Linked DNA regions of Homo sapiens. The protein of the gene in region 1 purifies or fractionates together with the protein of each later gene. This does not show direct contact. Each region holds a gene or a part of one and is shown on either strand. Other genes may lie near its edges. The genes, in order: SLC7A13 and ATL2.

Region 1 (3,735 bases):
TGTCTTCCACAGTCAGGGCCAGATTTAGCAGATGGGAAACAGAAGAGGCAAGGTGAGGTCACAAGTGATAACATCTACTGTTCTGAAACATCAGCTTACTTTGTTGGCAAATTACATCTTTTCAACTTTACTTATTTTAAACTGACTTTCAGTCTGGATGAAAAAACTTTTCACAGGAGAGGAGACAACCACTTAATTGTAGAAAAGGAAATAAGCAGCAAAACTTGGTAGCATAAGAACGTTATTGGAGAAAGATGGCCCTGACGGTCTGATTATCAGAATAATAAAATAATCTTAGTTGCCTAGGTAGGATGTTCAAAGCTTTGCTTGGATGATCACCTTTAATCCTCTTAGTAATAAAAAGGTGGATTCAATTGTTATTTCCATTTTACAGATAAGAAAACAGATTTAGAAAAGTTAGGTCACTTGCTCAAGCTCACACAGCATGGATTAGAGCCAAGATTCAAATCTAGGCAGTCTCTTTGGAGTGTTTAAATCTTGCTAAATACAAAATATAAGAAAGAACTGCTGAGAGAAAGAAAGCAATGTTCTCATCACCAACTATGGTTGATTTATGTCCTTCCTTTCCAGTCTTCTTTCCAACTTCTTCCAACCAGTCATCTCTTAATTGTTGTGTGTTTGAGTATTAGTTGTCAAGAAGCAACTATATTTTAAGCACCTTGCTAGGTACTTTCAGTAGAAAAAGAATTAAGACTTGGCTCCTGCTTTTAGGCAGGTTATAATCTATCTGGACAGTCATGTAAACCAAAAATCACGGTGTGACGATTGCTACCTAGTGGTCTGCAGAGGATGCTCAGAGAGCACATAGGGAGAGAGATCTAATCTAGAGCAGGGCTGATGGCCACAGTCCCCCTTGGAGGTGCCTGCCTAACGTCTGCTTTCTGTATAGTTTCACATGCTGCATCTTTTTAACATGTCTTTTGCTGTTTTCTGATCCACATTTTGTTAGATCACTGACCCTAATAGATACAATTATAAAGAAGTTATGAACTGGAGGATAAATTTGTTATATACAAATAACAGTATAAGATAATCATTAAGAGTTTTGGGCTCAAGTCCAGTTGCTTGGCTAGTAGCTGAGTTTAGTCTTGTTATTGAACCTCTGAACCTCAGTTTCTTCCGATCTAAAATGGGAAAAAATAATACCTACCTCATATTAACGTTGGAGGTATTAAGTAAGCTAAGGCATGCAAACAATCCAGGGTCTGACATTGATGGCTATTATTGCTTATATTATTATTCAACTTACATTTGCATCAGAAAGGAAGGCAAGGGCAGCCTTAAGTACAAGTGGCTGAAATTTGTCTTGTATGCCCCCAGGAGTGCTCTTTTCTTTTCTCTCAGTTATTTGATAACTGATACTGAGCCATGAGATGATAAAGTATCTTTTTCTGGGACGCTTTATAAGCTAAGAAGAGATTCTTTGTTTTTTCTTTTTTTTGAGACAGAGTCTCATTCTTGTCGTCCAGGCTGGAGAAGCTGGAGTGCAGTGGCATGATCTTGGCTTGCTGCAACCTCTGCTTCCTGGGTTCAAGAGATTCTCCTGCCTCAGCCTCCCAAGTAGCTGGGATTACAGGTGCCTGCCACCACACCCAGCTAACTTTTGTAATTTTAGTAGAGACGGTGTTTCACCATGTTGCCCAGGCTGATCTCGATCTCCTGATCTCGTGATCCATCCACCTTGACCTCACAAAGTGTTGGGATTATAGGCGTAAGCAACTGTGCCCGGCCAAGAAGATATTCTTAATGATTAAATCCCAACAAATGATCCTCTAATTAAAGGGTTTTGTTTCATAAATTATGACTAGCTGTGTAATATATATCTTTGGGGAATATAGATTCATATCAGTTATATCTTATATCGATTTTCTCCCTAGATTGGGTAATGTTGTAGAGAACTCTTACAATTCTAACACAAAGCAGGTACCAGGGACTGGTCTTTAAGGCTTTTGGCAAAGCAAAAACAAAACATAAAACAGGGAAAATTGTTTTAGCTAAAATTTTTGTCTTGATTTTTTTTTTAATATGCTGAGCCTATAAAGTTACAACATTTACCTGTCAGTATTTACCTGTGTAACAGACAGTCTGAGGATAGTCTTTCTGTTTTGTCATGAATTTCTTACTGCCTTGAGATATTTTCCAGAGAAGATTGTTGTTACTTCCATTGGGCCTTAGAAACTCCCTCTTAACAGATTCATGGTACCCAGATCAGTAGATAGTGATCTTACCAGCAAATGGTTCTAGTTATTTCCATTCATGAGCAGTCAAATGCTAGATGCCCATTCCCTCCAACCTGACAATGACAGTCTTCAACATCTCCTTTCACTCAGGCATTTATCTGACTTCTAAGCCAGATTTATTCAACTTTACAGCTAATTTAGCCTGTTTTCTTTAATTAGCTTGTATCTTTGCATTTTTATTTATATGAATATGCAGGTATCATTCATGGATGTTCATATCCAATATTTTTTCAAACTTTGCTCTTTTCAGGTGTTTTTGTCATTTCCATTAGCAACAATAGTCATCGACGTGGGCTTGGTTGTGATACCATTGGTAAAGTCTCCAAATGTGCATTATGTCTACGTGCTTCTGTTAGTTCTCAGCGGATTACTATTTTACATACCTTTAATACATTTTAAAATAAGATTGGCTTGGTTTGAGAAGATGACTTGCTATTTACAATTACTATTTAATATTTGCCTCCCTGATGTGTCTGAGGAATAGATGTCGGAAGTGCAAACTCTTAAAAAATTGGCCTTCTAAAAAACATATATCAGATTCCAAATCAAGGTTAAACATATGATAGAACATTCATGGTGAAATTCCTATGGTAAATATTTTTTTCTCAAATGAAATAAGTAATGTATACAAAAGTGCCTAAGACAGTACCTGGCTTCAGAGTCACTAAGAAATTGCTAAAAGCTCTGCTTCGCATGGTAAAAAACTTAAGTCCTGGTTTGCGTAGCTTGATAGAGTGATTATACAACTTCCATTCTCTCACTTTTTTTTTCTGTATCCCACCCCTTTTCTACTGAATTTGTGGGGATCCTATAATAAAAGTGAATGACTAAAAATTTTAAAAGCATTCCTTCTCTTCATCTTACTGAGTCCTTTTTGTGTGAGGTGGGCGGGGCCGGGGAAGATGCTGATTTGAAAATGAAAAGAATAATTCCATTTTTCAGTTGGCTTTTCCCTTCCAGAATGTAGCACTTTTTTTTTTCTTTTTGAGATGGAGTCTCACTCTGTCGCCCAGGCTGGAGTGCAGTGGTGTGATCTCTGCTCACTGCAACCTCCACCTCCTGGGTTCAAGAGATTCTCCTGCCTCAGCCTCCCGAGTAGCTGGGATTATAGGCACCTGCCACTATACCCAGCTGATTTTTGTATTTTTGGCAGAGACTGAGTTTCACCATATTGGCTAGGCTGGTCTCAAACTCCTGAACTTGTGATTCGCCCACCTCGGGCTCCCAAAGTGTTGGGATTACAGGCATGGGCCGCTGTGCCTGGCCCCATTTTTTTTCAAGCTAATAACTATTTTAGAAGCATGGGGCTGGGTGAGGTAGCTCATGCCTGTAATCCCAGCACTTTAGAAGGCTGAGACAGGTGGATTACTTGAGGTTAGGAGTTCGAGGCCAGCCTGGCCAACATGATGAAAACCCGTCTCTACCAAAAATACAAAATGAGCTGGGTGTGGTGGTGTGCACCTGTAATCACAGC
Region 2 (3,825 bases), on another chromosome or scaffold:
CTGCTGTTGATGGGAGATTTAGGTAGTTTCCAGGTTTTAATTATAAATAGCGCATATTTTGTTAAAATTGTTTTCCAGAAGAGTGTTTAGGAGACTGTGTGAGTTATATTGGGATAAATGAGTAATTATCTAAAATGTTTCTAAGTTTAAGATTTTTTTCCCCCTAATACATGGCAGTTTCCCTTCTCAAAATTCTGGTAACTAGCATAAATCATAAATAATCATGTAGAGAGGGACCTGAAATTCTAACACATTTCTAAGGTCTTTGTACTGCACTGTAATTTTTTTTATCTTAGCTTTTACTTTGTTCAGGGGCTAAACTTTTTATTTGTAGGCAAATTTATACTTTTTTTTTTGTTTTGTTCTGTTTTGTTGCTGTTGTAAGTACTTTAAAGGTAAATTCTTAATTTATTTACTGGTGTATAAGTCACAGCCATAATTTGTTATTTGGTTATTAGATACTGTGATTAACTACCTTATTTGTAGTTTTTGCTGTTCCAGGCAGCTTACTTGGGAAAAACATCTTTTGTGGTTTAAGAAAATGTGGGGTTGGCTGGGTGCGGTGGCTCATGCCTGTAATCCCAGCACTTTGGGAGGCCGAGGCGGGTGGATTACCTGAGGTTGGAAGTTCAAGATCAGCCTGACCAACCCTGTCTCTACTAAAAATACAAAATTAGCCGGGCATGGTGGTGCACGCCTGTAATCCCAGCTACTCGGGAGGCTGAGGCAGGAGAATCACTTGAACCTGGGAGGCGGAGGTTGCGGTGAGCCGAGATTGCACCATTGCACTCCAGCCTGGGCAACAAGAGCGAAACTCTGTCTTTAAAAAAAAAAAAAAAAAAAAAAAAGTGGGGTCTTAACAAAGTGGTCAGAAATGGGCCTTCATAATTTTTTGTATTGTCAAAAAAGACTCCTTAGGAGTACCATCTGAGTTAAGTGTGCATAGTGTGCATGCGAGTCTGTGTGCATTTTCTTTAAAAAAATTTTCTTTCTTCTGTTTACAATTTCACCTGTCTCTCTCCGCCCTCAGGTAAAACAAAATCAACATGAAGAGCTTCAGAATGTAAGGAAGCACATACACAATTGTTTCTCAAATCTTGGTTGCTTCCTTTTGCCACATCCTGGTCTTAAAGTTGCAACTAATCCTAGTTTTGATGGGAGATTGAAAGGTGGGAATTCCCATTCTTGCTAAAATCTGAACTTATTTATTAGAGGTGGAAAGTTTTTTAAGAAAATACATGACGCCTTAAATGTCCTGTCTTATACTGGAGAATGTTTGGATGCATTGTTCATGTTGTGGTTGTAATGCTCTGTGTTGTTTCTCTAGCATTCCATTGATTTGTTTGCAGCTGTCTAGCATATTGATTAACCTATTTTATAATGTCTGTTGCTCAGCAGTGATGTCCTGAAAATTCTGAAGGCTGAGAGCATTTCTTTTCAATTGATTGCAGTCTGCTAAAAGGCTTTATCATTTTATTATATTGATGAAATCAGATATAAGTGTCTGTTTCAGGAGTGATAGTACAGTTTATGTATGTTGTAGGATTATTTTGAGTGTGTTGGCAAAACATTTGGGGATTGACAAAACTTTTACAGTATGGCTGGTAAAACATAATCTAGTAGTAAAATTTAATACAATTTTATGAATTGTTTGCCTCTTGAAAAGGACATTTTCGTTAATACTAAATGTGAAATTTGTCTTGGTAGTCCACAAATTTATTGATGTTTTATTTGTTATTTGAACTGGCAGTGTTACTAGGGGGTTGGGGAAAATGGGCTAGTAGAGTAAGGGGGATTATATTTTTTCCTATGAGATATGGCATGTTGGATGAGCTTTTTTTTAAAAAATGAATCCACTTCAGTAATAGATACTATGTATTCTTATTTCATAAAACAGAATTTTATGAAATCGTACCAGTGGGGACCTAATTTTTTTTGGACTAATATGTTGCTCAATTTTTTGTTTTCTAGATATTGATGAAGACTTTAAACGAGAGCTTCGAAATCTGGTTCCATTGCTGCTTGCCCCTGAAAATTTGGTAGAAAAAGAGATAAGTGGATCTAAAGTCACTTGTAGAGATCTTGTAGAATATTTTAAGGTAGGTGAGCTCTTAAACAGTTTTGTCTAAGATAGAAATGTAGTTGACTTAAAACTCATCTGTATGTATAAGAAATTTCTTGTCTTTATTTTAAAACAAAAAAGAGTAAGATTTGTGATTTATCTTTCTGCCTTGAATTAGATGTATCTGTATTTAAGGATATTTAAAAGATTATAGCAGATTTCTGTCTCCTAGACAGTGATTTAATTTATTTACAGAATTATCTTACTTTTTCTCCATCTCAGATATGGAGAGAACAAGCCATTCATCATACTCTAATACTACTCTGTCATTAGTGAATGATAATAGGAATGGAAAGCATAATTTTACATCCTAAGTTCTCACAAAAACACTCCCTCAGAGTTCTGAGGACTTGATAAGAACAGCTGAAAGTATTTATATTGGTTCAAGTAAAGTACTCTTAGGTTTTTTTTTTTTCCCTCTGTTCTTCTCTAGTCTTTATAGCTTGCCTGCCAGAACAAGACCGCTGTGGAAGGTTGTATTATTTGTAGTAGTTTTAACTAAGAGTGTATTTTGTTCACTTATTGGATACTTGATAGTTACTCTCATATTATCTTTGTTTAGTTATGAATGAATTTTTTAAAATTTATTTTTACTTTTAATTTTTAATTTTTGTGGGTACGTAGTATATATACTTATGGGGTACATGAGATATTTTTGATACAGGCATACAATGTCTAATAATCATATTAGAGTAAATAGGGTGTCCATCACCTCAAGCCTGTATCCCTTCCTTATGTTACAGACAATCCAATTATACTCTTTGTTATTTTAAAATGTATAGTAAGTTATTATTGACTGTAACTACATTGTTATGCTATCAAATACTAGATCTTATTCTAACTATATTTTTGTACCCATTAACCATCTCTGCCTCCCCTCCACCCTCTGACTACCTTTCCTAGACTCTAGTAACCATCTTTCTAGTACTCTCTATCGCATGAGTTCAGTTGTTTAAATTTTTAGCTCCCACAAATAAGTGAGAACATGTGAAGTTTGTTTTTTCTGTGTCTGGCTTATTTCACTTAACATAAAGTCCTCCAGTTCCACCATGTTGTTGGAAATGACAGGATCTCATTCTTTTATATGGATGAGTAGTACTTCATCGTGTATATGTACCACATTTCTTTATCCATTCGTATATTGATAGACACAGGTTGCTTCCAAATTGTAGCTGTAGTGACTAGTGCTGCAGTAAACATGAAAGTGCAGATGTATCTTCTATATACTGATTTTTTTCTTTTGGGTATATACCTAGCAGCAGCATTGCTGGATCATATGGTCGTTTTATTTTTAGTCTTTTGAGGAACCCCCAAACTGTTCTCCATAGTGGTTGTACTAATTTACCTTTCTGCCAACAGTGTACGAAGATTCCCTTTTCTCTACATCCTTGCCAACATTTGTTATTGCCTGTCTTTTGGATAAAAACAATTTTAAATGGAGAAAGATGATATCTTTCTGTAGTTTTGATTTGCATTTCTCTGATGATCAGTGATGTTTTCATATCCTGTATCCCATTTGTTTGTCTCCTTTTGAGAAATGTCTGTTCAGATCTTTTGCCCGTTTTTTGATCAGATCATTTGATTTTTTTTTCTTTTCCCTGTAGAGTTGTTTGAACTCCTTATATAGTCTGGTTACTAATCCCTTATCAGACTAGTAGTTTGCAAATGTCTTCTCCCAGTCTGTGGGTTGCGTCTTCACTTTT

The links.
Region 2: the proteins of SLC7A13 (region 1) and ATL2 purify together in Homo sapiens (affinity purification with mass spectrometry; one large-scale study listed by BioGRID and IntAct). This does not show direct contact.

The regions. Positions count from the first base shown.
Region 1 is NC_000008.11:86,213,423-86,217,157, reverse strand, and holds the end of SLC7A13 (solute carrier family 7 member 13), read left to right. Parts: intron 1-2,511; coding exon 2,512-2,745; 3' UTR 2,746-3,095; downstream 3,096-3,735. UniProt on the Homo sapiens protein: Associates with SLC3A1/rBAT to form a functional heterodimeric complex that transports anionic and neutral amino acids across the apical plasma membrane of renal epithelium.
Region 2 is NC_000002.12:38,307,653-38,311,477, reverse strand, and holds part of ATL2 (atlastin-2), read left to right. Parts: intron 1-1,030; coding exon 1,031-1,169; intron 1,170-1,971; coding exon 1,972-2,099; intron 2,100-3,825. UniProt on the Homo sapiens protein: Atlastin-2 (ATL2) is a membrane-anchored GTPase that mediates the GTP-dependent fusion of endoplasmic reticulum (ER) membranes, maintaining the continuous ER network. It facilitates the formation of three-way junctions where ER tubules intersect.